Linked DNA regions of Homo sapiens. The protein of the gene in region 1 purifies or fractionates together with the protein of each later gene. This does not show direct contact. Each region holds a gene or a part of one and is shown in the gene's direction. Other genes may lie near its edges. The genes, in order: NRBP1, DDX19B, ITM2C, SRR, RBM25, PLXDC2 and TBC1D4.

Region 1 (4,024 bases):
TGTGGCTGCTTGAATGTGGGCATTTATTTTGTTTGTTATTGTATCTCAAGGACTTAGCCCAGTGCTTGGCCCACAATAAATGCTTAATAAAACATCTGTTAAATGAGTGAATGAAAAAAAAAATGTTGTTAACCAATACCCATTTGTCACACTCACATCACAGGAAAGGTGAGGTCATCAGGGATGAAGTCACTAACAACTGCCAGTCATGTGCCCCAAGGGTAGCCTCACCATGGACTAGTGGGCTTGTTCTGTGTAGAGAAGGGATGGATAGTGAATGCCAAGGTTAGTTCTAGCTGGATAAATTAGCCAAGGGTTTCAGCTGGATAAGTTGGCTGAGGGTGCTACAGGTCTAGCCTTAAGGCTGTCTCACTGAAACATTTTGGAGTCTGGAGTCATCTGTTCTGAATAGCGCCCACATAGTTTATATTTTTTTATTTTTTGAGACAGAGTCTCACTCTGTTGCCCAAGCTGGAGTGCAGTGGCACGATCTCAGCTCACTGCAACCTCTGCCTCCCGGGTTCAAGTGATTCTCCTGCCTCAGCCTCCTGAGTAGCTGGGACTACAGGTGCGTGCCACCACACCCAGCTAATTTTTTTATTTTTAGTAGAGACAGGGTTTTGCCATGTTGGTCAGGCTGGTCTCGAACTCCTGACCTCAGGTAATCCACCTACCTCGGCCTCCCAAAGTGTTGGGATTAAAGGCGTGAGCCACTGTGCCCGTCCACACATAGCTTAATTCTTGAGCACAGTAAAAATAGGGTGTACTTGGGGATTCAAAGGGAAGCCTATTGGATGAGTATTTGCCAAGAAGGAATGGAGCACCTGATTTTGCTGGTGATTTGAACCTTACTCTAAGTGGGATTAGACTGCCATAAATCTTGTGTTTGTCATTCCTGGGAGGGTCATCTTCAACTAAGATAGCTCCCCTTTTCTAGACTAGAGTTAGGAGAATAGTTAATGTTTCAGTATTTAGGACTGATTCTGATTTTGGATTTAAAGGAAACAAAGGTGGTGTGTGTTTTCTATTTTTAATTTTTAAAAGTTTTGTGTAGAGACTGGGGTCTTTTTATGTTGTCCAGGCTGGTCTCAAATGCCTGGCCTGTTTTATTTTCTTTTGAATTTGCAGATAAGTATTAGGATTATTAAATCTTTTTTTTTGTTTGTTTGTTTTTTGTTGAGACAGGGTCTCCCTCTGTTGCCTAGCCAATGGCATGATCATAGCTCACTGCAGCCTCAAACTCCTGGGCAATCAAGTGATTCTCCCATCAGCCTCTCGGGTAGCTGGGACTATAGCTGTGTACCACCTTGCCCTGCTAATTTTTAAATTTTTTTGTAAAGATGGGGTCTCACTTTGTTGCCCAGGCTGGTCTCAAACACCTGGCCTCAAATGAACCTCTTGCCTCGGCTTCTCAAAGTGCTGGGATTACAGAGGTGAGCCACTGTGCTCAGCTGGATTACTAAATTTTTTTTTGAGATGGGGTCTTGCTCTGTCACCCAGGCTGGAGTGCAGTGGCGTGATCTCAGCTCACTGCAACCTCCACCTCCCTGGTTCAAAAAAATTCTCCTGCCTTAGTCTCCTGAGTAGCTAGGACTACAGGCACGCGTCACCACACCCAGCTAATTTTGTATTTTTAGTAGAGATGGGGTTTCACCATGTTGATCAGGCTGGTCTTGAACTCCTGACCTCAGGTGATCTGCCCACCTCAGCCTCCCAAAGTGCTGGGATTACAGGCATGAGCCACCACGTCCAGCCTGGATTACTAAATCTTTACAGATGTATCCTGACTTTCTCTGCCTTTTCCCTCTGTATTTGCCCCAACCAGTGCAGGCCTGAGTGTTCCTTCCAGCATGTCGGAGGGGGAGTCCCAGACAGTACTTAGCAGTGGCTCAGACCCAAAGGTAGAATCCTCATCTTCAGCTCCTGGCCTGACATCAGTGTCACCTCCTGTGACCTCCACAACCTCAGCTGCTTCCCCAGAGGAAGAAGAAGAAAGTGAAGATGAGTCTGAGATTTTGGAAGAGTCGCCCTGTGGGCGCTGGCAGAAGAGGCGAGAAGAGGTAAGGTTATGGTACAGTTACTCTTGGGTGAGTGAATTCTGGAAAGGTGAGAACTGGAAGAGCAAAGTCTTAAAAGAGGCCAACCAAACTTCAATAGGTTGGGGGCTAGGAGGAGATGATCATATGGAGTGTTAAAATGGAGGATTTGTGAGATAAGTTTAATTCTCTTTCATATGAATTTCTTCTCAGGTGAATCAACGGAATGTACCAGGTATTGACAGTGCATACCTGGCCATGGATACAGAGGAAGGTGTAGAGGTTGTGTGGAATGAGGTACAGTTCTCTGAACGCAAGAACTACAAGCTGCAGGAGGTAGGTGATGCTGAAAAGGTGAAGCCTGGGGAATGTTGGAACACTGATGTTAGAGAGGAATTGGTGTTGGGAAGCTGCCCGTGAGGAGAGTATGTTGGGGTTAGATCGTTTCTGGGGAGGGATAGGGAATGGCTTCTCAGGATTATTACAGTGATTTGTGACTCTGTTATTCCACTGTCTCCCTTGCTTTCAGGAAAAGGTTCGTGCTGTGTTTGATAATCTGATTCAATTGGAGCATCTTAACATTGTTAAGTTTCACAAATATTGGGCTGACATTAAAGAGAACAAGGCCAGGGTAAGAATTTTTTCCCCATATTTCCTGAACTTATTGCAAAGAGACTAGCTACATTTATTATTGTTCCTTTTACACTCAGAGATTAAAACAAGGTAGTTTTGAAACAGAACTGGAATCAGCTGCAATGGCGATAAGAGTAGGGCTTCAGTTGTCACCTATGCCTTTTGTGTGGCTATAGATTGGGCAGAAAATGAGTGAACTTTTGCTTCTTTCTTCCCATAACTTTCATTGCTTGTTTTCATTGCCCTATTTAGTCTAAGTAAGTAAAGCTAAGAACAAAAGGAGAGAAATTTTAACAAACCTTCAAATTTAAAATATGTTAACAAGGGAAGGGATCATTTCTACTATAAGGCCTTTTAGTAAGTGCTTTGCCTCCCCAGGTCATTTTTATCACAGAATACATGTCATCTGGGAGTCTGAAGCAATTTCTGAAGAAGACCAAAAAGAACCACAAGACGATGAATGAAAAGGTATAGAAGGAGAGCAGACAAAGTTTGAGGCTGGTTTTTGGGGGTGGTTTTAAAAAGGACTCTGTTAATAATGAAGCTGATCAGGAAGGGACGGAAGGAGCTAGTGGGAGAGAGTTAAGAGAGGGAATTACTGCTGACCCTTGGATCCAACTTTGTTCCAGGCATGGAAGCGTTGGTGCACACAAATCCTCTCTGCCCTAAGGTAAGTAGTACCTGGTTAGTTTCTTACCCATATTTCCTGATGTAGTTACTCCAAACAGATTTCAGGGCACTACTCTTCTGTTCTATTCTGCCTCTCCCCACTTTCTTTGAATCATATACTGTCAAGATTAGGGCCCCTACGGGTCTTTTAAAGGGTGCGTCCTAATGCCCTAACCACGACACTTATCTCCTACCTCTTTCTCCTAGTGCTTATCCAGCTATTTAAATCATCAGGCATAATGGAGATTCAGAGTGTGGGGATTATCTTTATGGTGACCAGCAGGAGACCTGGCCCTTGCTCCTCTTAACCCTTGGGTTCCCCCTGCCCTTAATTTCCCAGTGGCCCCTCTAACAGCCCAGTGCCCCCACAGCTACCTGCACTCCTGTGACCCCCCCATCATCCATGGGAACCTGACCTGTGACACCATCTTCATCCAGCACAACGGACTCATCAAGATTGGCTCTGGTGAGGGGAGGGAGAGGTTCTGGGCAGGGGAGCCTCGGGAATTTGGGAACCATGGGGGTAAGATGAAAGGAATGGGGGATAACAGAGCAAAATTCTGAGGTGTGGGCTGGTGAGAAGAGAAAGGACCTTGCTAGGAGTAATTAATAGGAGAGGCCAGTTAATTAGTGGAGAGGGGGTAGGATATATAATCTTACACCTTTTTGAAGGGAAAATTGGGGTT
Region 2 (4,024 bases), on another chromosome or scaffold:
GTAGCTGGGACTACAGGTGCGCACCACTGCATAGCTTTTCCCAGAACTCTTATTAGATGAATGTTGGATCTGTTGGACTGGCCCTTTAATTTTTTTTTTTTTTTTGAAATGAAGTTTCGCTCTTGTCCGCCAGGCTGGAGTGCAATGGCACGATCTTGGCTCACTGCAACCTCTGCTTCTTGAGTTCAAGCGATTCTCCTGCCTCAGCCTCCCGAGTAGCTGGGATTACAGGCATGTGCCACCATGCCTGGCTACTTTTTGTATTTTTAGTAGAGGTGGGGTTTCACCATGTTGGCCAGGCTGGTCTTGAACTCCTGACCTCAAGTGATCCGCATGCCTCAGCCTCCCAAAGTCCTAGAATTACAGGCGTGAGCCACCACACCTGGCCAGCCCTTTAATTTTTTTAAAAGTCAGGTTTATGGAGGTATAATTTACACAGAGTAAAATTAAACTTTGTTAGTGTACAGTTCTATGAATTTTGACAAAAGCATACAGTTGTGTAACTACCACCACAGGCAACACATAAACCCTCTCTACAAAGAACTACAACTTCTTGTAGTTCACTCCCTCTCCTCACCCTTCTCTGGCAGCTGCTGATATGTTTTCTGTCATTATAGTTTTGCCTTTTCCAACATGTCATAAAATGGAATCATATATATAATATATAACCTTTTGAAAAGTCTGGCTTCTTCCACTTAGTATTATGCATTTAGAATTCAACCAAGTTGCATGTATCAGTAGTTCATTCCTTTTTATTGCTGAGTAGAATTCCACTGTGGATATATATACACAGTTTGCTTATTCTTCTATTGATGGACACTTGAGTAATTTTCAGTCTGAGACAATATGAAGAAAGCTACTCTATACATTAAGGTACAGATTTTTGTATGGACATATGTTTGCATTTCTCTTGGGTAAAGTCAATATCAAAGAGTAGGATTTACTGTGTTATGTCGTATGTGTTTAACTTTGTAAGTTATGTGCCAAACTATTTTCCAAAGTGTATCATTCTGCTTTTCCAACAGCAATGGATGAGAGCTTCAACTGCCCCACACCCTTCCCTGCACAGTATTGTCAGTTTCCTTCATTCTAATAGGTACATGCTGGTGTCTCATTGTGGTTTTAACTTATATATCTCCCTAATGACTAATGATGTTGACAATCTTTTCATGTGCTTATTTGCCATGTATGTAACTTCTTTGAAGTGGCTTTTCAAACCTTTTGCCCATTTTTAAAGTAGGATTGTTTTTGTTTTTAGTTGGGAAGTTTCTTTATATATTCTGGATAGAAGTTCTGTTTTTTGTTTTTGTTTTTGTTTTTTTTGAGACAGGGTCTCACTCTGTCACCCAGACTAGAGTCAGGCTAGAGTGCAGTGGCATGATCTTGGCTCACTGAAACCTCCACCTCCTGGGCTCAAGGGATTCTCCCACCCTGTCTCCAGAGTAGCTGGGACCACAGGCATGCGCCACCACATCTGGCTAATGTATGTATTTTTTGTAGAGACAGGGTTTTGCCATGTTGCCCAGGCTGGTCTTGGAACACCTGGGTTCAAGCAATCCGCCCACCTGGGCCTCCCAGAGTGCTGAGATGGATTACAGGCATGATAAGTCCTTTATCGGATATGTTTTGCATATATTCTCTCAAACTACAACTTGTCTTTTTTCAACAGTACTTTTCAAATAATAGACATTTTCAACTTTGATTAACCTAATTTATCAATTTTTGTTTGTTTGTTTGTTTTTGAGACGGAGGCTTGCTCTGTCGCCTGGGCTGGAGTGCAGTGGTGCCATCTCGGCTCACTGCAAGCTCCACCTCTCAGGCTCACGCCATTCTCCTGCCTCAGCCTCCCGAGTAGCTGGGACTACAGGCGCCCACCACCACGCCAGGCTAATTTTTTTTTGTATTTTTAGTAGAGATGGGGTTTCACCATGTTAGCCAGGATGGTCTCGACCTCCCGATCTTGGGATCCGCCCACCTCGGCCTCCCAAAGTGCTGGGATTACAGGCGTGAGCCACCGCGCCCGGCCTAATTTATCAATTTTTAGATGATTAGTTCTTTTTGTGTTCCAAGATATACACCTTATCCAAGGCCACAAAGATTTTCTCCTGTGTTCTCTAGAAGTCTTATAGTTTTAAATTTTACATTTATGTCTGTAATCCATTTTCCATTTTGAGTTAAATTTTTTCTAATAAGGGGTATGCATTGAGGTTCATCTTTTTTTTTTTGAGGCGGAGTCTGGCTCTGTCTCCCAGGCTGGAGTGCAGTGGCGCAATCTCAGCTCACTGCAACCCCTCGCCTCCGGGGTTCAAGCAATTCTCCTGCCTCAGCTTCCCTAGTAGCTGGGATTACAGGCACCCACCACTATGCCCAGCTAATTTTTGTATTTTTAGTAGAGACAGGGTTTCACCATATTGGCCAGGCTGGTCTCAAACTGCTGACCTCATGATCTGCCCGCCTCGGCCTCCCAAAGTGCTTGATTACAGGCGTGAGCCACCGTGCCTGGCCGAGGTTCATCTGTTCATCTTTTTCACAGAGATGTCTTTTTTTTTTTTTTTTTGAGACAAAGTCTTGCTCTTGTCCCCCAGGTTGGAGTGCAGTGGCGTGATCTCAGCTCACTGCAACCTCCACCTCCCAGGTTCAAGCGATTCTCCTGCCTTAGTCCCCCGAGTAGCTGGGATTACAGGCGCCTGCCACCAAGCCTGGCTACTTTTGGTATTTTTAGTAGAGACAGGGTTTCACCATGTTGGCCAGGCTGGTCTCAAACCCCTGACCTCAGGTGATCCATCCGCCTTGGCCTCCCAAAGTGCTGGGATTACAGGCGTGAACCACCACTCCTGGCCAGAGCTGTCTTAATTGTTCCAGCACCATTCGTTTAAAAGTCCTTTGGTTTTCTTTTTTCTTCTGTTTTTCATCTTTGTCTCTTTTTTTTTTCTTTCTTTCTTTCTATATTTCCTGGGAGATTTTCTCAAGTACTGTCTGGTATATTTCATTTTCACTTCTACTTTCTTATTTTTAATTTCAGGAACTTTTTTCTTCTTCCTTTACTGTTCCTTTTTTACAGACAATACCCTGTACGGCTTTCATGGTCATAATATCCTCATCATTTGGAGGATATTTTTCTTCTTCTCTCTGCTCAGTCTCTGTTTCATGTGAGGCGTGTTTTATCCATATATTTCAGTGTCTACTTTTTTGTGATGACTGTTTCTCAGATGTCTGTAATCCTTGCTTGGCCACTCATATTTAAGAGTGAGTGACTAAAAAGTTGAGTGGAAGCTGTAAACACATGAGTGGGGCTTGTCTATTCTGACCTTAACTATATATCTTTAGTGGTCTATGTCAGCATCCTGAGAACTTTCCTCCCGGTCTGGCCAGATTTTGCAGAGAGGGATCCTCTAAACTCCTGCCTAGATGGTGGAGGTCTGACTCAGTGTTCTGGAATCTAGGTGGAGGAAAGGGTGAGGGAGGTCTCAGGACCCAGAATACCTGCTTCCACTTAATGCTTCTGTTTTCATTATGGCATCCCCTCCCTTAACTGTGGTCCTTATCCATTTGAGCATTTCTCATGCCTAACCTGGCAGGCATTGTTAACTGAGTAAATGAACTGTGTAGTTTGTTATTTGTTGCAAAGAAACTTTTGATCATTCACTCTCAATATGTAAATATCTATTTAGAAATTGCATACTTTACTGTTTTATTAAATATATTATGTACATTGTAAAGCAAATAAAAAAGTAATAAAGGCTGAGATAAAAATGAAATAATGCTTTCCTGTGCTTGTGTGTGCTGGCTTCATATTTTTATTAGCCAATATCTCAAGGCACAATATACACTTAGAAAAAAAACACATCATTAGTCAACGTAGAGATAAATATGTGTTTCAAGTAGTTCTGAGAGGTTTTTTGTTTTTTTAATTATTATTTTTTAAATTTTTATGTATTTATTTTTTGAGACAGAGTCTCACTCTGTCGCCCAGGCTGGAGTGCAGTGGCGCAATCTCGGCTCACTGCAAGCTCCACCTCCTGGG
Region 3 (4,024 bases), about 200 Mb from region 1:
ATCTGCTATTTTTATCTAGCACTTGATCCTTTACAAAGGGCTTTTAGGTTCTTTGTCTCGTTTAATCCCAGCAAAACCCCTGTCACGCAGAGTCTGTCCACATTTTGCATGGGAGACCCGAGAAGGGGGAGGTTGCAGGGCCCCGCTGGGCCTGTAGCCCCACTTGACCCCTAAATACAATCTGAGCCCTGGTGTTTGTTGTGTCCCGAGGGCAGATTTCCCAGCTGCTGTAGGCAGCCTGGCCTGTGTCAGGGTCAGCCACCTTTCCTTAAGACCTGCTCAGGAGCGCCAGAGGGGCAGGAGGGCATCCCTGGTGCCTGGTTTGCAAGAGCTCCTGGGTGGTTCGATCCCTGGGAGATGCCAACGGAAGGTGTCACCCCCGTCTCTTGCTGCTCCCGGGAGTCCATTGGAAAACCAAAGCCATTTAGTCCCAACCCCCTGTGGCCAGCAGCTGTTCCTGAGGGCCCTGTGCACTGTGGCCATGCCCGTCACTTGCTGGTGACCTTGGTTAGTGCCCCTGGCTGCTGAGGAGATGACAGTGGGCAGGTGGTCCATATGATCACGGGACCCCTAAAGCAGGGCAAGGTGGGGAGAGGCCCCGGCCTCCTCATGGGCCAGGCAGTGCGGGCAGTGGTTTGACCTCCCACACCCACCCAGCAGGCTCCCTTGCGGGCAGACTTGAGTGTGAGGGTGCAGGACAGGCAGGGGCACCCCATGGTGAGGATGCTGGGGGCCTGCTGACCTGCTCACGCATGTCCGCAGTGAAGGGGGGGTCCTCCAGACATTTTCTGTCCTTTTCCTAAGCAGGGCGGGTCAGACCCTCAGCTCCCCAGGGCCCAGGCCCCACACTCCCCTGTGCTCTAAAAGGGTGGGAGGTGAAACCTGAGGAGCGAAGCAGGCGCCCCCAGGGCAGGACCCCTGTGCTGTGCTGAGAGATAGGGCCTGTCCTGAGTCACTTAGGCCTGAACCACCCCCCTCCAGGGGGAAGGGAGAAAGGAAATCTGTTCCCATCCCAGAACGCCTGGCCGGAAAGGGCCTGAGAGGTCACTTGGTCTGACCTGCTCATTTTGCAGATGGGGAAGCCGAGGCCCAGAAAGTGCTAAGCAGGCAGGTAGTGGCAGAGCCAGAATGAGAAGCTTCAGGCTCTGGGGCTGGATCCCCTCCTCTCCCCAATACTGCGGCAGTCCGCAGGGACTGACCTCTAACCTCACTCTTGGCCGTATGTGGACACCACGGAGGAAGGATTAAATGGTGAACATTGGAGGCAGAGACTGGCCCCGGGGCTTTTGCATTATCTCCAAGGGTGAGCAAGGGCCCGGGGGAAGGCATAGGAGGTAGGGAGGAGAAGAGACAGGAAATTGACCAAGCTCACCTGGCTGGCTCTCGTCAGTGCTCTGGGTAAAGCAGTTTTGTTGAATTTTATACTCACACACCTACGTCCACCACCCCACACATGTGTGGCCTGGAGATGGGTTAGGTTGGCTTCTTGGCAGCCCTGCAGCTATGATCTTGAGCCCAATTCTGGCTCCCAGAGCAGATTTTTCCAGGATCCTTCTAGCCTGGCCTTCCGGACAGCCACATTTCTCTCCTGGCAGGAGCTCCCTGGTGGATGGAAGCTTCCGGGCTTCATCCTGTAGCTGTTACACCACTTGTAACAGCCTGCTTGACTGCCGGTCGGTGCCTGTGGGGGGCCAGTGTGGATCACAGGCCTAGAGCTCCCTGGCTGGGGACAAGCACCCATGCCCAGACCCCATGGGGCTCCTGGAGCCCCTGCCCCCATCAGTCACAGCCTCCTTGGTGGAGTTGAGCAGCCTTTACACAGCCTGCCCACCTCCTATTGTCCTCATTTTAGTCTACCCTCTGCACCTTGGTTTTAGAGTGGATCTTGTCACTCCCCAGCTCAAAAGCCTTCCCGGGCTCCCCATCGTCCAGAGCAGCAGCTCCCAGCCTGCCTGGTGTGTCTCAATTCCTACAGAGATTTCTAAGTCCCTAAAGTCACCGAGGCCAGGTCGGCACATCCCCTATCTTCTGTTTGAAAGAATATACCACGGTCACGGCTGGTATAAGCAAGAGGCCTAAGAGCTCAGATAACTCAAAATGCACCTGCTGAACCCACTGCATCTCTTTCGGTGGCTTCCAGGTGTGTCTTGGTTTCTCTTTCGAGGTGTGTCTCCTTTTCTCTTTCGAGGTTTGTCTCGGTTTCTCTTTAGCCAGGACGAGTCCGGGTGACCCTGGTGGGCCTTCCTTTCCCTTCTAGGTGTCATCTCCTTCCCTCCCTTTCCCCCAAGACTCCCTCCGGGCCCAGCCAGCAGGTGAAGCCTGACTTAGGGAAGGGGGGATTTCCAGGGGAGGGGCCCTGGCCCCCACTGACCCAGCATTGCTATCCACAGGAGGAGCAGCCCCCACAACATCGATCCAAGAGGGGGGGCTCAGTGGGCGGCGTGTGCTACCTGTCGATGGGCATGGTCGTGCTGCTCATGGGCCTCGTGTTCGCCTCTGTCTACATCTACAGATACTTCTTCCTTGCGCAGGTGAGGGGCCGGGCCAGGTAGGGGCAAGGCCTCGAGAAAGGGTCATGTCTAGAGAGGCATGGAGGGAAGTGTCTGCAAGGGGGCAGCAGGAAGCCCCAGACATGCCCTCAGGTGGGAGCGAGTGCCCGGCCAGCCCACAAGACTGGGGTGCCCCCTCCTCCTTGGGGCCTCCTTGGATGCAGGCCAGTCCCACATTTAGCCCCTTGTCCTGGGGAGCCAAGCATGAATCCGGGTGACAGCACTGGGCCCGCCCCACAGGGTCACCCTGGGGAATTCTCACCAGAAACTCAGATCTGGCAGAAACTGGAACTGTGATCCCCCTCCACAGCTCAGACCCTGCACCTGCAGGTCACGCTTTAAGGCTGACCTAACTGTGCTTGTGCATGGACATTTGGGTTACCAAACAAGAGAGGGAGAGGGGTGGGTACAGAGAGTCTCCACCACCTCCTTCCAGAAGCAGGAGTGTGTCCTTGCTGCCAACTATCATCCCCCTCCCCGGGGGACCTGGGCACAAAGCTGGGCCAACCCAGACCTGGGAGGGAGGGAGTGTCGCTGTGTGCTTGGAAATGAAAGTAGGTAAATTAAAAGGATAAACCTACGTACAACTCACAGAGAACCTCAGGGTGACAAAGAGGTGGGACTTGCCAGTCATTTATGACCCAAGTGACCTCCCACTCCTAAGCGTTTAACTTTGTTGTCCCCCAGTTTTTCCACGATGGAAATTGCTGAAGAGTTTGCATTCACGGGGCTTTCCCCTTGAAAGCTCAGCTCACATACACCCATCACCTTCCTTTCTGTGCAGCATCCCCCTGCCCCGCCCCACTCCCTCCATGGCCTGCGTCCCCCTCGTTCCAGGGTCCTGTGTGGGACCTTCCCACAGGCCTCTTCCTGTTGTGGCCCTACCCTAGGACCTGGGCCAGCATTTCCTGGTCCCCTCTGTTCCACCCTCGACTCACACCCTTCTCCCCACACCCCAATTCGTTGTGTGGACACCTCCCAGCAGCCCCTGGGTCTGTGCCCTGGGACAGTATTCGGGGTGTCCAGCCACTGTGGGATGCAGCCCCGGAGCCTCACCTTCCCTGGGCTCTCATCCCCGCACAGCCCACAGGAGCCCCCCATGCTGCGATGACGCATCCTCCCTGGAGAACTTGCACTGAATCAAACAGACGGTGGAATCCTGCCGATCCCAGGCCAGGCAGTCCCAAGCATGTATCTACAGGCCCCTCCAGGAGCCCCCTCCAGAAGTAAGAGTGGGCAGACTGGCCCGCCCGGCCATTCAGTTGATGGGATCACACCAGGCTGCCTGGCCTCCCTTACTGATGGAGTGACTGGACTGGCCCACCAGACACAGTGTCTGTCAAGGTTTCTCCAAGACAGGGGTCAGGGATATCCAGGAAGGGCGATGGCACTTGTCCGAGGCTGGATGTGGAGGTAACCGTGATAGGGGCACAAGACTCTTAACAGTGTTGCCTCCAGCTCCACCTCCCCACCCG
Region 4 (4,024 bases), on another chromosome or scaffold:
CACTGCACTTCAGTCTGGGTGACAGTGAAACTCCATCTCAAAAAAACAACAAAAAAAAAATGTTGATAAATGTACTCACCTATGAGATTCATTGATATTCATAATACTGTCTGACAAAAAAAGAAGTTACCAAACCTACCAAAGAGTTTTGTCTGCATATGTAGTTGGGCCTGGAAAGGTAAACCACTGGATAGCAACTGTCTTTAGGTAGGAAGGTTTCGTGGCTATTTTCATGTTCTTTTTGTATCTCTGTATTTTCAGATTAACTCAGTTTTCTAATGAATATAGATTCTTTTGTAATAAGGAAAAATAGAGAAACTTCATATTTAACTGCTACAATAGACACAGTGGAAAGTGGAAGCTTAATGTAGTTATTGAAAATTATGAAAATTGTAAAGAAACTGAGTCAAATGTAGGAGCAAATAAAATGTTTGCTTTAACTGTTACATAATGTATATTGAGAATGCAGAAGGAGCCGGGCGCAGTGACTCACGCCTATAATCCCAGCACTTTGGGAGTCTGAGGCAGGCGGATCACCTGAGGTCGGGAGTTCGAGACCAGCCTGCACAACATGGAGAAACCCCGTCTCTATTAAAAATACAAAATTGGCCGGGTTTGGTGGCTCACGCCTGTAATCCCAGCACTTTGGGAGGCCGAGGCAGGCGGATCACGAGGTCAGGAGATTGAGACTATCCTGGCTAACACGGTGAAACCCCGTCTTTACTAAAAATACAAAAAATTAGCCAGGCATGGTGGCAGGTGCCTGTAGTCCCAGCTACCAGGGAGGCTGAGGCAGGAGAATGGCGTGAACCCGGGAGGCGGAGCTTGCAGTGAGCCGAGATCGCGCCACTGCACTCCAGCCTGGGTGACAGAGCGAGACTCTGTCTCAAAAAAAAAAAAAAAAAAAAATTAGCTGGGCATGGTGGTGCATGCCTGTAATCTCAGCTACTCGGGAGGCTGAAGCAGGAGAATCGCTTGAACCTGGGATGTGGAGGTTGTGGTGAGCCAGGACTGCACCAGTGCACTCCAGCCGGGACAACAGGAGTGAAACACCATCTCAAAAAACAAAAAAAAAGAAAATGCAGAGGGAAATAAAGAAAATGAACATAGTTATTTAAATGGAATAGTCTAGCTATTTTTTCTTTATCAAATAATTTGTTAAATTTTTATTAAAAATTAAAAATTTAAATTTATAAATTAAAAATAATATAAAAATTGAATCCAATTCATTCAAGTAGCTTCACAACGATGATTAAAAGAAAGGTGGAGCTGGGCACGGTGGCTTACACCTGTAATCCCAGCACTTTGGGAGGCCGAGGCAGGCGGATCACGAGGTCAGAAGTTCAAGACCAGCCTGGACAACATGGTGAAACCCCGTGTCTACTAAAAATATAAAAATTAGCTGGGCACGATGGCACATTCCTGTAATCCCAGCTACTCGGGAGGCTGAGGCAGGAGAATTGCTTGACCCGGGAGGCGGAGGTTGCAGTGAGCCGAGATTGTGCCACTGCACTCCAGCCTGGGCTACAGAGCGAGACTCCGTCTCAAAAAAAAAAAAAAAAAAAGGAAGATGGAGACCAGTGGCAGTGCCAACAGTGCCAAGAGATGGGTGGTGTGGGTGGGGAGTGGGCTTTAGCCTTCTGTAATCACCATCAGTTACTTCCCTCAAAGCTTCACCAGAAAAACTTCGTTCAGCTTTTAAGTCAACTCTCTTTTAGGGAAATTCTGACACTCCAATAATGGAGAATTTCCACATGACACCACAGGCCCCAGGTCTATTCTGTTACGTATTTTCAAAATCTCTTCAATAAACATACTGTCTCAGACTTTGCTTTGACCCCTTTCTTATTCCTGGGTTTCAGAACCATGTGTGCTCAGTATTGCATCTCCTTTGCTGATGTTGAAAAAGCTCATATCAACATTCGAGATTCTATCCACCTCACACCAGTGCTAACAAGCTCCATTTTGAATCAACTAACAGGGCGCAATCTTTTCTTCAAATGTGAACTCTTCCAGAAAACAGGATCTTTTAAGGTAACAATCCTTTTTCTCAGTGTATCATGTATGTTTTCACACCCTTTCACATATCAGTTTGATTCTCCTGACCACCCAATGAGATAGGCAGAAGTAAATTAATGCCTTTATACAGCTGGAAAAAAGGTTACAGAAATTTTCCTTTCAAGTCCTTGTTTTACCTAGCATCATAGTGTTGATAAGCAACTTTTACACAGTCATAAATCCTTATAATTAGGATAATATATATAACTTATCCGAGTAATTTTTATATATATGTATGTGCATATATATAATATATACATAAAATACAGTCATATGCCACATAACGTTTCAGTCAATGACAGACCACCTATATGATGGTGGTCCTTGGTCCCATAAGGTTATACCACACATTTACTGTACGATTTCTGTGTTTAGATACAGAAATACTTCTCATTGTGTTATAGCTGCCTACAGTATTCAGTACAGTAACATGCTATACAGGGTTTGCAGCCTAGGAGTAATAGGCTGTAACAGCTGGATTTGTATAAGTACACTCTATGGTGCATGCAAGATGATGAAATTGCCAAATCATGCATTTCTCGAAACATATCCCCATCCTTAAGCAAAGCATGACTTTATTATATATACCATCACTTACTGTCCAAACTAAGACATAATTTATTATCCAAACTAGGACATGTTTGGGACTGAAAGAAGCAACCTGAAATATCTAAACAGACACCTGAACTGTTGCAGGCAAATTGGAAAGTGTTATCACTCTGTATATGACCCAAGTTTAAGCATTCACTGTATCAACTTGCTACACATGGATACATTATCAATATAAAAGATCTAAGCCTGGGCCACACGGCAAAACTCTGTCTACAAAAAATACAAATATATGACAGGCGCAGTGGTTCACACTTGTAATCCCAGCACTTTGGGAGGCTGAGGCAGGTGGATCACCTGAGGTCAGGAGTTCGACACCAGCCTGACCAACATGATGAAACGCTTTTTTGTTTTGTTTTGTTTTGTTTTGAGACGGAGTCTCACTCTGTCCCCCAGGCTGGAGTGCAGTGGCACGATCTCGGCTCACTGTAAGCTCCACCTCCCAGGTTCACGCCATTCTCCTGCCTCAGCCACCCGATTACCTGGGACTACAGGCGCCTGCCACCACGCCCAGCTAATTTTTTTTTTTTTTTTTTTGAATTTTTAGTAGAGACAGGGTTTCACCGTGTTAGCCAGGATGTTCTTGATCTGACCTTGTGATCCGCCCGCCTCTGCCTCCCAAAGTGCTGGGATTACTGGCATGAGTCACCGCACCCAGCCTTGGTGAAACACTTTCTACTAAAAATACAAAATGAGCGGGACTTGGTGCCAGGCACCTGTAATCCCAGCTGCTTGGGAGGCTGAGGCAGGAGAATTGCTTGAACCCAGAAGGCAGAGGTTGCAGTGAGTTGAGATCACGCCATTGCACTCCACCATGGGTGATAGAGGAAGACTCCATCTCGGGGGAAAAAAAAAAAAAAAAAAAAAAGGCCGGGTGCGGTGGCTCACGCCTGTAATCCCAGCACTTTGGGAGGCTGAGGCAGGCGGATAACGAGGTCAAAAGATCGAGACCATCCTGGCTAACACGGGGAAACCCCGTCGCTACTAAAAATACAAAAAAATTAGCCGGGCGTGGTGGCGGGCGCCTGCAGACCCGGCTACTCGAGAAGCTGAGGCAGGAGAATGGCGTGAACCCGGGAGGCGGAGCTTGCAGTGAGCCGAGATCGCGCCACTGCACTGCAGCCCGGGCTACAACAGAGCGAGACTAGGTCTAAAAAAATAAAAAAAAAAAATTTAGCCGGGCATGGTGGCAGGTGCCTATAATCCCAGCTACTTGGGAGGCTGAGGCAGGAAAATCACTTGAACCCGGCCCTGGGGGTAGACGCAGTGTGGGGAGGCGGACGTTGCAGTAAGCCGAGATCGTGGCACTGCACTCCAGCCGGGATAACGGAGACTCCATCTCAAAAAAATAAAAAAT
Region 5 (4,024 bases), on another chromosome or scaffold:
AAATTTGAAGTGAATGGAATGGGTATATTGGCATAAACGAAAATTAAATATATCTGGTTAACTCTGCAGAATGAATTACACATTTAAAAACCATAAAATATAACTTAAATACCAAGAATATAGAGTTTTACTTTTTTTTTTTTTTTAGACGGAGTCTTACTCTGTCGTTCAGGTTGGAGTGCAGTGGCGCGACCTCGGCTCACTGCAACATCTGCCTCCCAGGTTCAAGCAATTCTCCTGCCTCACCTTCCAGAGTAGCTGGGATTACAGGTGCGCACCACCACACCTGGCTAATTTTGTTTGTTTGTTTGTTTGTTTTCTTTTGAGACAGAGTCTCACTGTGTCACCCAGGCTAGAGTGCAGTGGCGCGATCTCGGCTCACTGCAACCTCGGCCTCCCGAGTTCAAGTGATCTCCTGCCTTTGCCTCTTGAGTAGCTGGGATTACAGGCACCCGCCACCACACCCAGCTAGTTTTTGTATTTTAGTAGAGACGGGGTTTCACCATGTTGGCCGGGCTGGTCTCCAACTCCTGACCTCAAGTGATCGGTCTGCCTCGGCCTCCCAAAGTGCTGGGATTACAGGGGTGAGCCACTGTGCCCAGCTAATTTTTTTTTTTTTTGAAACTGAGTCTTGCTCTGTCGCCAAGGTGGAGTGCAGTGGCGCAGTCTTGGCTCACTGCAACCCCTGCCACCCAGGTTCAAGCAATTCCCCTGCCTCAGCCTCCTGAGTAGCTGGGACTACAGGCGCACACTACCATGCCTGGATAACTTTTTGTATTAGATACGGGGTTTCGCCGTGTTGGCCAGGATGGTCTTGATCTCCTGACCTTGTGATCTGCCTGCCTTGGCCTCCCAAAGTGCTGGGATTACAGGCATGAGCCACCTCACCCAGCCCAGTGTTTATATTTTTAGTGGAGACAGGGGTTTCACCATTTTGGCCAGGCTGGTCTCGAACTCCTGACCTCCAGTGATCTGCCCGCCTTGGCCTCCCAAAGTGCTGGGATTACAGGTGTGAGCCACCGCCCCTGACCGAGAGTTTTAGTTTTTAAGCATTATTTATATCTAATATTATTGGGGGAAAAGTGGTTTTAAAAATGAGTTCATGGCCCAGTCTTGTAACCATTGTGAGGCTAGGCACTGGGCCATTGCTAGAATATAGTATGCGGCATGAGATAGCATAATAAATTTGTTTATTGAAGTCCTCAGAGTTTGTTTACTGATTTATTCATTAATCAGTTTATTCAACAGGTATGAAAACCAACTATCCTAAGAAAGCACTGAGATAGGCTATTATAATGATAATAGAAGAGCTTCTGTAAGTAGGACAGTAGCCCTTTCTGTTTTAAAAAGAGATACCACCCCCAGTTTTTGGTTTTGGTCAAAAAGTTTTACAGAAAGTTTATTTTAAAACTCAACACATTTACAGTCTTGCAATCTTGTGTTTTTCATTGTTAATATGTACTGATAACCTACCTACTGTTTAAAACATTTCTAATACCTCATTTGCCAAGTATATTAAATCCTCCTAAGGGCTGGGCGCAGTGGCTTATACCTGTAATCCCAGCACTTTGGGAGGCCGAGGCCGACGGATCACTTGAGGCCAGGAGTTTGAGACCAGCCTGGCCATACATGGTGAAACCCCGTCTCTACTAAAAATACAAAAATTAGCTGAGCTTGGTCGTGCGTGCCTTGTGGTGTGCACCTGTAATCCTAGCTACTTGGGAGGCTGAGGCAGGAGAATCGCTTGAACCCGACAGGCGGAGGTTTCAGTGAGCTGAGATGGTGCCTCTGCACTCCTGGGTGACAGAGCAAGACTCCATCTCAAAAAAAAAAAAAAAAAAATGCATCCTAGGGATTCCTTTACCTATAAAGTTTTCTAAATATTTTAAGTATACTGTGTTTTCTGAAATTGAAGTTTAGTTTTATTGAATATGGTATTATCCCAATTTAAGTCAAAGGAATTCTGAGGAAGTAGAGCTGTGAGCATGTAGGTCATGCTTTTCTGTTTTAAAGAAATGTCTAGTAAACAGGTAAACGCATACTCAACCTCATTAGTCATGAGGGAAATGTAAATTGAAATAAGAGTATATTTTACTTATGAAATTGTGAGAATTTTGACACTGATCTATTCTACCAATGATGAGGATATGAGGAAAGGGCATACCCATATTCTGGTGGTGGGAATATACATTTATATGCTAGTTTTCAGGGATGATTTTGGAGGTAAAGTTTGGATACATATAATTTTTTTTTTTTTTTTTTTTGATGTGGATTCTTGCTCTGTCGCCCAGGCTGACGTGCAATGGCACCGTCTCGGCTCACTGCAACCTCCGCCTCCCAGGTTCAAGCGATTCTCCTGCCTCAGCCTCCTGAGTAGCTGGGACTACAGGCACCTGCCATCACACCCAGCTAATCAGATACATATAGTTCTAACCTGTATTAGAGAATTACCTGTACAGATGCATACAGTTATATGTCTATTATCTCCAGGAATGTTCAACATTATTTGTGAGAGCTGAAAGTGGAGCCAACTGTTAATGTTGGTTAAATAAATATGTCCGTATTATAATAATTTACTGCATTATTATTATTTTATTATTTTTGAGGCAGTCTTGCTCTGTCACCAGGCTGGAGTGCAGTGGCTTGATCTCGGGTCACTGCAGCCTCCACCTCCCGGGTTCAAGCAATTCTCCTGCCTTAGCCTCCCAAGAGCTGGGACTACAGGCATGTGCCACCACGCCTGGATAATTTTTGTATTTTTTTCATGTTTTATTGCCTGTATTTTTTTTTTTTTTTTTGAAACAGAGTCTCGCTCTGTTGCCCAGGCTGGAGTGCAGTGGCGCGATCTTGGCTCACTGCAAGCTCCGCCTCCCAGGTTCACGCCATTCTCCTGCCTCAGCCTCCCTAGTAGCTGGGACTACAGGCGCCTGCCACCGCACCCAGCTAATTTTTTTTTTTTTTGTATTTTTAGTAGAGACGGGGTTTCACCGTGGTCTCGATGTCCTGACCTCGTGATCCACCCGCTTCGGCCTCCCAAAGTGCTGGGATTACAGGTGTGAGCCACCGCGCCCGGCCTGTATTTTGTTTTTATATGTATCATTAATTCTTAAAAATTAAGATTTTGAATCTCTTTGGATATTTATTAGGCTTCAAAGATCTTGATGGAGCAGTCTGAGTTGACTGCCAGTTTCTTAAGTTGGCGGTAAGGCTGGGGTGCAGCGCACACTGGTTTAGCGTGAGCAGTGATCACTAAGCACATGAGCTACGACCACCCCAACTTTACCTCGTTCACAGACAGAACTGGAAGGTTGGTCCTAGATGGCTGCTTGGTCCTGGATGCTTTAGTGGTCTCTTGATATGTGGAAAGCCTTGTTTTGGAACAAATGTTTCCATTGATACAGATGAGAAATGCCTCTTTAATATTTTTATAAACCATTTAGACCCCAATAGATTTGGTTTGTGGGTCACTCTCTTGTGAGTACCAAAGGATTTCATGGTTGGAAGGTGTGCCTTTTCGTCTTGGCAGTGAGCAGCATTTAATGGAGAGACAATGCTTGTATTTGATTTTTTTTTTTTTTTTTTGGTTCATTTACAGGATCTGAGACTTATTCAGACTACCAGCTGTATTATCAGGAAGGAACAAATCCAAGTTTTGACGTATTGTCAGTGTGCCGCATGTTGTATTTTCAAATTCCTTTAGTGGTTTTAACATTAGATGACCAATTCTTTGGCACTGATGTGCTTTTGCCAGTGTACGGTAGATCTGACCATGGCTCTGAGAAGTCTGGCTGGCATTACCACATCCCAAGCTCTCTGTCCAAAGAGAAGGAAGCGCCAGGGACGCACGCTTCCTTGGCTGGACTGCAGGAAAAGAGCTGCAGCACCAGCCTCTCATTACTGCAGCCACCCCCTCTCCTAATTTTTGTATTTTTAGTAGAGATGGGGTTTCACCATGCTGGCCAGGATGGTCTCAATCTCTTGACCTTGTGATCCACCCACCTCGGCCTCCCAAAGTGCTGGGATT
Region 6 (4,024 bases), on another chromosome or scaffold:
TTCAGAAATTGAGGATGAAATTCATCCCAAAGTAAGATTGGCCATATAATTAAAAGCCCTTGCTGTGGGAAATATAAAATACTTAAAATGTTCAACATCAGTGTACTGGTATTTTAAGCTAGTTGAATATTTCTGATGGGAAATATACTCTAGAAACCCATATATTGATAGGATTGATTTTTAAAAGAATGGTTTTAAATTCCTTGCCAAATTTTCGAAGACTTTTATAAACAGAAGTAGCTTCTTTCCTGGACATCATTTACATGTAGTTTTATGAAAAAAATATTGTAATTAAATGGTTAGCTTACTGAATATATAAAAAAAGCAAGGTGAAACAGAAAAAAGTATACAACTTTATTTGTAAAATAGTCTATATAAAAATTCAGTATGGGGGGAAAAGTCCAGCAGTCTTGACGTTTGTCATGCAACAATCAGGATCTTTATTACAGACATGTTGGCACAGGAACAACATCTGATTTCATAACAGGGACATTTTATTATGCGTTACTTTAGTAAATGCTGCAGTTGATTTCATTGCCACCAGAGGGCAGATAAACTGCTAATTTCCTCTATTATTCCCTTTTCTGTTTTAGAGGGAAGTAGTTTATGTTTATCATATAATTTACACTTATTTTAGTTGTTCTTCTCTGGTTGAATATTTTTCTGTTATTTCCTGCTTTTGTTGGAGTTAAACAATTTACTTTGAAATATTACTCATTTGTAGAGTTTGTTATGAGAGTGTTGCTGTTGAGACATAATCACTAAAGTTTCTGTTTACATATAAACCTAGAGCACAGTGATATAATAGAGGGGTTAATTCAAGTGAACATTTATTGTAAAATGGACATCTGTCATATTGTTGGACAAAAGACAGGTTGATTATTTTATCAATCAATGACTTGAGGCTACCTGCAAAATTTTAAAAATATGAAATATGAGTTTCTTTTTCCTTTAGAGAACAGATACAAGTTTTGGAGCTTGAGGTTGGGTAAGTTTGGACTGAGACATAATTGTAGTGTAGAACATTTATATCAAAGGTAATTTTTGTTGTTGTTGTTCATGGATGTCTGCCTAGAGGTTTGGAATTATTATAATCAGGAGAATTTGCACATTTCAGTGTGATCTTCAGAAATAAACTCTTGTCAGGGAGAATGTATTTGAATAAAACTTAATAATGAAAGATAATAATTTTGCTCCAGACAGGTTTCTTCACTGTAAGCATCAGATACTCACAGAGTATGTAGAAAATATGTGTCCGGCCGGGCGCGGTGGCTCACGCCTGTAATCCCAGCACTTTGGGAGGCCGAGGCGGGTGGATCATGAGGTCAGGAGATCGAGACCATCCTGGCTAACAAGGTGAGACCCCGTCTCTACTAAAAATACAAAAAAAAATTAGCCGGGCGCGGTGGCGGGCGCCTGTAGTCCCAGCTACTCGGGAGGCTGAGGCAGGAGAATGGCGGGAACCCGGGAAGCGGAGCTTGCAGTGAGCCGAGATTGCGCCACTGCAGTCCGCAGTCCGGCCTGGGCGACAGAGCGAGACTCCGTCTCAAAAAAAAAAAAAAAGAAAAGAAAATATGTGTCCTTATCAATTAGTTTTGTCATTTTTTCCTAAAAGCTATCTCCTATTGCAGAAACATTATGTTTTTAAAGAGGAATGAGTTGATCAACAGCCTTGATCATGGGATCTAAAGTCTTCAGCTGCAGGCTGGGCACGGCAGCTCATGCCTGTAATCCCAGCACTTTGGGAGGCCGAGGTGGGCGGATCACCTGAGGTGAGGAGTTCCAGACCAGCCTGGCCAGCATGGTGAAACCCCGCCTCTACTAAAAATACAAAAATTAGCCGTGTGTGGTGGTAGACCCCTATAATCCTGGCTATACTTGGGAGGATGAGGCAGGAGAATCACTTGAACCCAGGAGGCGGAGATAGCAGCGAGCCGAGATTGCACCATTGCACTCCAGCCTGGATGGGCGACAAAGGGAGACCCTGCCTCAAAATAAAAATAAAAATAAGTAAACAAACAAATAAATAAATGAAGTCTTCAGCTACTTTCTCCTCACATTAATACAGTCTCTTCTCCATGGTCTTCAAGGCCATTGCCTGTGGCCTCAAGCACTTTCCCACCCTCTCTCCCCTGCCTGTTCTTGAAAGCTCTCACCAGATGAGCTGCTGAAGTTCCCTGAGTGTGTACCATGCATTACCACTTCTGCCATTCCTCCTGCTCTTCCTTCTCTAAGTGCGTCTCCATCCATCCATTTTCCAATTTTTCCTGCAGATTTATCTCAAGTGACACTCTCCACAAAAGGACGTGTTGTCTTAGAATTCTCAGTGCACTTTATGCCTTCTTCAAAGGCACTTGCTTGATATTGTAGGGTTTCCTTTTCTTTCCATTTCTACCTCTCTCTCATGTATTCTATTAGACTAGACCATACATTCCTGAGGTCAGGGTCTGTTGTCATTTATTTCTGAATCTGCTGTGGCAACAACCAATAAATAGTTGCAATAAATGGTTGTTGGACTGAACTGAACTGACTAGAACTATAGTTCAAGCTGAATTATTAATTTGAATGCCACGTTGGGAGACTTTTTAAATAATTCCCATGCTAAGACTTTGTCCATCCCTAGGATAGAAATAAATTTAAAACGAACTTTGGAGAGTAACTGTTGAAACCAAAGCATAAGATCCAGAAGTCTGCTAAACTATCCTTCTACTATTAGGTGGGACTTTCAAAAAATTCATTCGACCATTCTTCTATCCTGCTGGTTTCTGAGTGAATGTTCACTCATGTTCTTAATCTCATATCTTTTTTCTTTTATACATTCCTTTAAAAAAAATTCTTTGTTTTCATTTTTAATAATATGTATTTAAGCTGTGCAACATGATGCTTGTTTATTTTCTTATTCTATGTATAAGAGAAAGCAAATTGCATTTGTATTTCCGTGTCTGAATTATTTTACTTAGCACAATGTCCCCCAGATTCATCCATGCTATCACAAATAGCAAGATCTTCTTTTTTAAAGCTAAATAATATTCCATTGTGCATATATATGCACTATATATGCAATATATAATGTATATACACTATATATGCACTATATAGTATATATGCACTATATATAATATATATGCACTACATATGCAATATATAATATAAATGCCCTATATATGCAATATATATAATATATGCACTATATATGCAATATATATAATATATATGCACTATATATGGAATGTATATGCACTACATATGCAATGTATGTGGAATATATATCCAGTTATTCATCAATGGACACTCAGGTTGTTGTCATATCTTGGCTATTGTGAATAATGCTTCAATTAACATGGGAGTGAAGATACCTCTTAAAGGCTCTGGTTTTATTTTCTTCAGGTATATATACAGAAGAGAGGTTGCTAGCTCATATGGTGGTTTTATTTTTGATTTTTTGAAGCAACTTCATATTGTTCTTTTTATGGCTCTACCAATTTACATTCCCACCAACAGTGTATAAGGGTTGCCTTTTCTCCACATCCTCACCCACACTTACTATCTATTGTCTTTTTGACAATAGCCATCTTAATATTAGTAGGTGTGAGATGATACCTTATTGTGATTTTGATTTGTATTTCCCTAATGATTAGTGATGTTGAGGACCATGTCATATGCCTGTTGGCCATTTTTTTTGTCTTCTTTGGAGAAATGTCTTTTTTAGGCACTTTGCCTATTTTAATATCAGTTATTTACATTAAGCCTTCTGTTGATAGATAGGACTTTCAAAAAGTTTATTCCACTATTTTCCTATACTGCTAGTTTCTTTCTGGATGTTTACTTACTTTTTTTTTTTGAGACAGAGTCTCGCTGTTTCTCCCAGTCTGGAGTGCAGTGGCGCGATCTCAGCTCACTGCAAGCACCGCCTCCCAGGTTCACGCCATTCTCCTGCCTCAGCTTCCCAAGTAGCTGGGACTACAGGCACCCGCCACCACGCCCAGCTAATTTTTTGTATTTTTTAGTAGAGACGGGGTTTCAC
Region 7 (4,184 bases), on another chromosome or scaffold:
TTATGTCTCAGATATGTAGCCTAAGGAAATGGGATCTGTGTAACAGAGTTTCTGGGAAGGTTCTAGAAGGTCTCAGTCTACCTTCCAAGAACTTTTCATTGCTTCTTTGAAGACATGGGTCTTTTTGAACAAAGGTTTTTTAAGTGGTTCAACCAAATGACTTAACCTAATCAATTAGTAATGTCTCCATCTTGGAACTTAGATACCTATTAATAAGAGAGCCATCAGAGTGCAACCAGAAATTCAGCATAAGAACAATGGCAGTTGGTTATATTGATCTTAAATAAATAGAAGGGAAAAAGTGGTCCCAGGGCTTTATAAAAAGTGAGAACTCATTAAACTAAAAACCAAGAAACCCGAGTTTTCATTCTTCTTGTAAGCACTTAGGAGAAAGTCAGGAACTTCTGTGTCTTTCTTATTTATTTTGTCTTTACTTCTTACCCAATTCTTAATTATCATTCGGTATGAGTAAAAAGGGAGAATACTTGTCTACCTGTCTTAAAATTACAATGATCAAATTATTCCAAACTTTTTTTTAGTTCTTTGGAAATATGTATTACCACATATATATAAAAGAACAAGAAATCTCTACATTAGCTCTCAACTGGGGATATAACATAAATAAAACATAACTTTTCCATATTTTAAGAAGTTGGCTGCTTTAATAACTAGGAAGATTCAAGCTGTCGATATTATGTTTTAAAGTGAAATTTGGAACTGGAATTTATAATATTGTGATTGAAAACACGAGCGTTTTTTGAGATTATTAGGAAAGATAATTCAGAAATTAATGTGTAGGCTTTAGAAGGAACTGAAACCAAGCAAATACTGTTAAAAAAAAATCCCAGTTCTCCACTGCGAGTGGCCCCCTCTCTAGGGGGCAGCAGAGACGCCCGGGAGGAGACGGAGATCGCGGCGACTCAAGAGAGGCCAAGTGGGTCCGGGCAGTGCCCGCGCCAGGCTCTGAGCTGCAGCCCCAAGGGCGGGGGTCGAAGGAAGAGGCGAAGAGGCGGAGAGGCGGCTTCACGGATAAGCTTTTGCAGGCGACGCTCTCCGCCCGCCGGACGGGAGGCGGAGTAGCAGCCCGATTAAAGAAGCAGCCTGGAAGGAAGGAAGGAAGGAGCGAGGGAGGGACGGGAACGGCAGGAGGAGGAGCAGCGAGCTGGGCTGCAGCTGCGGCGGGAGGAGGAGCGGCCCCCGCGAGGCCACGTTTTGTTTTTGTTATTTTCCACTGGAGTAGTTGCCGGAGCCTTTCCTGAGGACTGACCGCGCCGCAGCCCTGCAGCCCCGACCTTCCAGGTGACAGCCGGTCACCCTGGTAGGAGTCAGCTCCGCCCCAAGTCACCCCCTCCCGCCCACAGCCCCATTCCCCGCCCAGCCACCCAGTGTCTGCCCCAGGCGAGCGCGGCGGCCGCAGCGGGGCTGCAGCGCTGGAGCCGGCGGCCGCGGGGACCCTCGGCGTGGTCCTCTGACCCTGCAAACCCGCGACGGAGGAAGGGGAGGTCCTGCCCGAGGCGCCAGCCCAAGGAGGAGGATGCCCATTTAACCCGCCCTCGCCTGCCGGGCGCTTGCCTCGGTGCCCGCCGCCGGAGCCTCCGAGCCGCGCCCGTGGAAGTGCTGCATGGGGCAGGGCTGCTGAAGCGCGGAGTTCGGGGTCGCGCCGCTCCCAGGCAGGCGCGGGAGCCCGGTGCGGCAGTTGGCACAGTTTCGGCGGCGCCTTCTGCGCGGGAGTGGGGGGCGCGGTGCGCCCGGCCGGCCTCCGCGGTGCCCTGGTGAGGCGAGAGTTATGGAGCCGCCCAGCTGCATTCAGGATGAGCCGTTCCCGCACCCCCTGGAGCCCGAGCCGGGCGTCTCAGCTCAGCCCGGCCCCGGGAAGCCAAGCGATAAGCGGTTCCGGCTGTGGTACGTTGGGGGGTCGTGCCTGGACCACAGGACCACGCTGCCTATGCTGCCCTGGCTCATGGCCGAGATCCGCAGGCGCAGCCAGAAGCCCGAGGCGGGCGGCTGCGGGGCGCCGGCGGCCCGAGAGGTGATCCTGGTGCTCAGCGCGCCCTTCCTGCGTTGCGTCCCCGCGCCGGGCGCTGGGGCCTCGGGGGGCACTAGTCCGTCGGCCACGCAGCCCAACCCGGCGGTATTCATCTTCGAGCACAAGGCGCAGCATATCTCGCGCTTCATCCACAACAGCCACGACCTCACCTACTTTGCCTACCTGATCAAGGCGCAGCCCGACGACCCCGAGTCGCAGATGGCCTGCCACGTTTTCCGCGCCACAGACCCCAGCCAGGCAAGACAGGGGCTCGGAGGCGCGGGGGCGGGCTCGGCCTTGGGGGATCGGGGAGCAGGGCGGGAGGGGCGGGGACCCCACTTTAAGGACCGACTGAGGTTTGGCTGCAGGCGCGCGCGCTCCACGTGGCGCGCTCAAGCGCCGGCTGGCCCCTTCCCTGGACCTTGGGAGTGGGAGAGAAGGCGTTCGGGGGCTGGGCGAGCGGCGGGAGCGGCCGGCCGGCTACAGCAGGGACCCGGAGGGAAAAGGACAACGGTCCCGGGATGGAGGGGGAGCTGGCGCGTCCAAGGAGCACGCGTGGAGGAGCGCCCGTCCCGGGAGGACGGCGGTGTCTGGGGTGTGACCGGAGATGGCTTGCTTGCCGTGTGTGTGTGTGTGTGTGTGTGTGTGTGCGTGCGTGTGCGCGCGAGCGCGTGTATGAACGCAGAAGGTTGGGTTCCTAGAGGTCCTCACTAGTTCTCAATCGCAGTCAAATCCTTAACCGGTTTGGCTGGTCGCGTCATCTTCGCAGCAGCACCTGCAGGTCTCCGGTCTGGGAGGCAATTTCCGAGCGGGGCTTAGGGAAAAGTTACTAGACATCGTCAGATTGTCTGCAAAGAAGGATTCTACATTTGGATATTGAATGGAAAGAAGCCCTTTTTTTGCGGTTTTTAAACACACTTATTGGAGGCAGTGTAGTAGAACAGGTTTCTAATATCATTTTTTAAATGTTTTTTTCACTTTTGTTTTTAATATTTTTTTTCCAGAGTCTTCTAAATCTAATTACCAAACAGTAAACTTTACTTCCTTAAAAACAGATATGGTCCTTATGGAACAGGGAGAGGAGAACTTGACTATGCAGTGATTGTGTCTTTGAAAACAGAGTTTTCCCCCTTTAATTTGTAATGAGTTTTCTCCCCGCCATATCAAAAGCTTCCAAAATGCTGTTTTAAAAATGGTTATTTACTGTTTGCACAGTACTTTAGGTTCTTTGGAAAAATAGTGTTGTCTAAATATAAATAAAGTCTCAGGTTGCACCATGTGGCTTTCTTTTGGTAACTGGGAAATTAATCGTAGTCAGATGAGAAAAACATCCTATAAATATGGCTTTAATTTTTTTTATTTCACAATTCTTCTGTCTGTAATTGAAAGACTTAGTTCAACAGTTTTCACAAAAGGCTTGTAGTTGAATTGAAGAAAATAATAGTTCATTGTCTTAGATTTCATCAGTTACTTTGAAAAATAGGTTTTTTTTTTTTGAGACGGAGTCTTGCTCTGTCGCCCAGGCTGGAGCGCAGTGGTGCGATCTCGGCTCACTGCAACCTCCACCTTCCGGGTTCAAGTGATTCTCGTGCCTCAGCCTCCCCAGTAGCTGGCATTACAGGCACCCAACAATCAGAACTCCTAATGTGAAGTTATGTTTATGGCATAACTGTTATGTTTATGGCAAAATATCGTACTAAAATTATTTCAAGATCCTAACCACGATTTAATGAATTTCATTTTGTGAACATTTGTTCAAAACTTATTTTTAGCTTTCACATATGTTAAAATTGGAAAGTTTCTGAAAGCTATTACATTTTATTGTATTACATTTTTCTGGTTCTGGTGGTAAAGAGGAGCCAGTTGCATTTTTCCAGGACTTTAAGGAACTTTTCATGACTCTCGGGGGTTTCTGTTAAAGTTATTTCCCCCCAGCGACATCTGATGCATGACACATTGTTGCTAATCTCATTGATGGTCCTGGCACCTTTAGTTCTCAACAGCTGCTGTTGAGTTCCTCTTGGTCTCATTGGTAGGAAGTCAATTATAAACATTCCTTTATTTTCCTCCATTATATATTTAAGCGTTAGAGGCTGAACTATATAAATATTAATATGTTTAGGCTCACTTCCCCCTTTTAGTCCAGTGGGAGCAGTGG

What was found.
Region 2: the proteins of NRBP1 (region 1) and DDX19B purify together in Homo sapiens (affinity purification with mass spectrometry; one large-scale study listed by BioGRID and IntAct). This does not show direct contact.
Region 3: the proteins of NRBP1 (region 1) and ITM2C purify together in Homo sapiens (affinity purification with western blotting; one study listed by BioGRID). This does not show direct contact.
Region 4: the proteins of NRBP1 (region 1) and SRR purify together in Homo sapiens (co-immunoprecipitation; one large-scale study listed by IntAct). This does not show direct contact.
Region 5: the proteins of NRBP1 (region 1) and RBM25 purify together in Homo sapiens (affinity purification with mass spectrometry; one large-scale study listed by BioGRID and IntAct). This does not show direct contact.
Region 6: the proteins of NRBP1 (region 1) and PLXDC2 purify together in Homo sapiens (co-immunoprecipitation; 2 studies listed by BioGRID and IntAct, with this or other methods). This does not show direct contact.
Region 7: the proteins of NRBP1 (region 1) and TBC1D4 purify together in Homo sapiens (co-immunoprecipitation; 2 studies listed by BioGRID and IntAct, with this or other methods). This does not show direct contact.

Annotation. Positions count from the first base shown.
Region 1 is NC_000002.12:27,431,424-27,435,447, forward strand, and holds part of NRBP1 (nuclear receptor-binding protein), read left to right. Parts: intron 1-1,825; exon of another isoform or gene 1,826-1,830; 5' UTR 1,831-1,850; coding exon 1,851-2,060; intron 2,061-2,249; coding exon 2,250-2,372; intron 2,373-2,565; coding exon 2,566-2,667; intron 2,668-3,047; coding exon 3,048-3,137; intron 3,138-3,298; coding exon 3,299-3,339; intron 3,340-3,709; coding exon 3,710-3,804; intron 3,805-4,024. UniProt on the Homo sapiens protein: Required for embryonic development. Plays a role in intestinal epithelial cell fate and proliferation, thereby involved in the architectural development of the intestine potentially via the regulation of Wnt-responsive genes.
Region 2 is NC_000016.10:70,301,833-70,305,856, forward strand, and holds part of DDX19B (ATP-dependent RNA helicase DDX19B), read left to right. Parts: intron 1-4,024. UniProt on the Homo sapiens protein: ATP-dependent RNA helicase involved in mRNA export from the nucleus.
Region 3 is NC_000002.12:230,871,027-230,875,050, forward strand, and holds part of ITM2C (integral membrane protein 2C), read left to right. Parts: intron 1-2,390; coding exon 2,391-2,531; intron 2,532-4,024. UniProt on the Homo sapiens protein: Negative regulator of amyloid-beta peptide production. May inhibit the processing of APP by blocking its access to alpha- and beta-secretase.
Region 4 is NC_000017.11:2,313,695-2,317,718, forward strand, and holds part of SRR (serine racemase), read left to right. Parts: intron 1-1,862; 5' UTR 1,863-1,866; coding exon 1,867-2,034; intron 2,035-4,024. UniProt on the Homo sapiens protein: Catalyzes the synthesis of D-serine from L-serine. D-serine is a key coagonist with glutamate at NMDA receptors. Has dehydratase activity towards both L-serine and D-serine.
Region 5 is NC_000014.9:73,064,824-73,068,847, forward strand, and holds part of RBM25 (RNA-binding protein 25), read left to right. Parts: intron 1-148; exon of another isoform or gene 149-270; intron 271-4,024. UniProt on the Homo sapiens protein: RNA-binding protein that acts as a regulator of alternative pre-mRNA splicing. Involved in apoptotic cell death through the regulation of the apoptotic factor BCL2L1 isoform expression.
Region 6 is NC_000010.11:19,819,093-19,823,116, forward strand, and holds part of PLXDC2 (plexin domain-containing protein 2 isoform 1 precursor), read left to right. Parts: intron 1-4,024. UniProt on the Homo sapiens protein: May play a role in tumor angiogenesis.
Region 7 is NC_000013.11:75,479,370-75,483,553, reverse strand, and holds the start of TBC1D4 (TBC1 domain family member 4), read left to right. Parts: upstream 1-1,384; 5' UTR 1,385-1,786; coding exon 1,787-2,284; intron 2,285-4,184.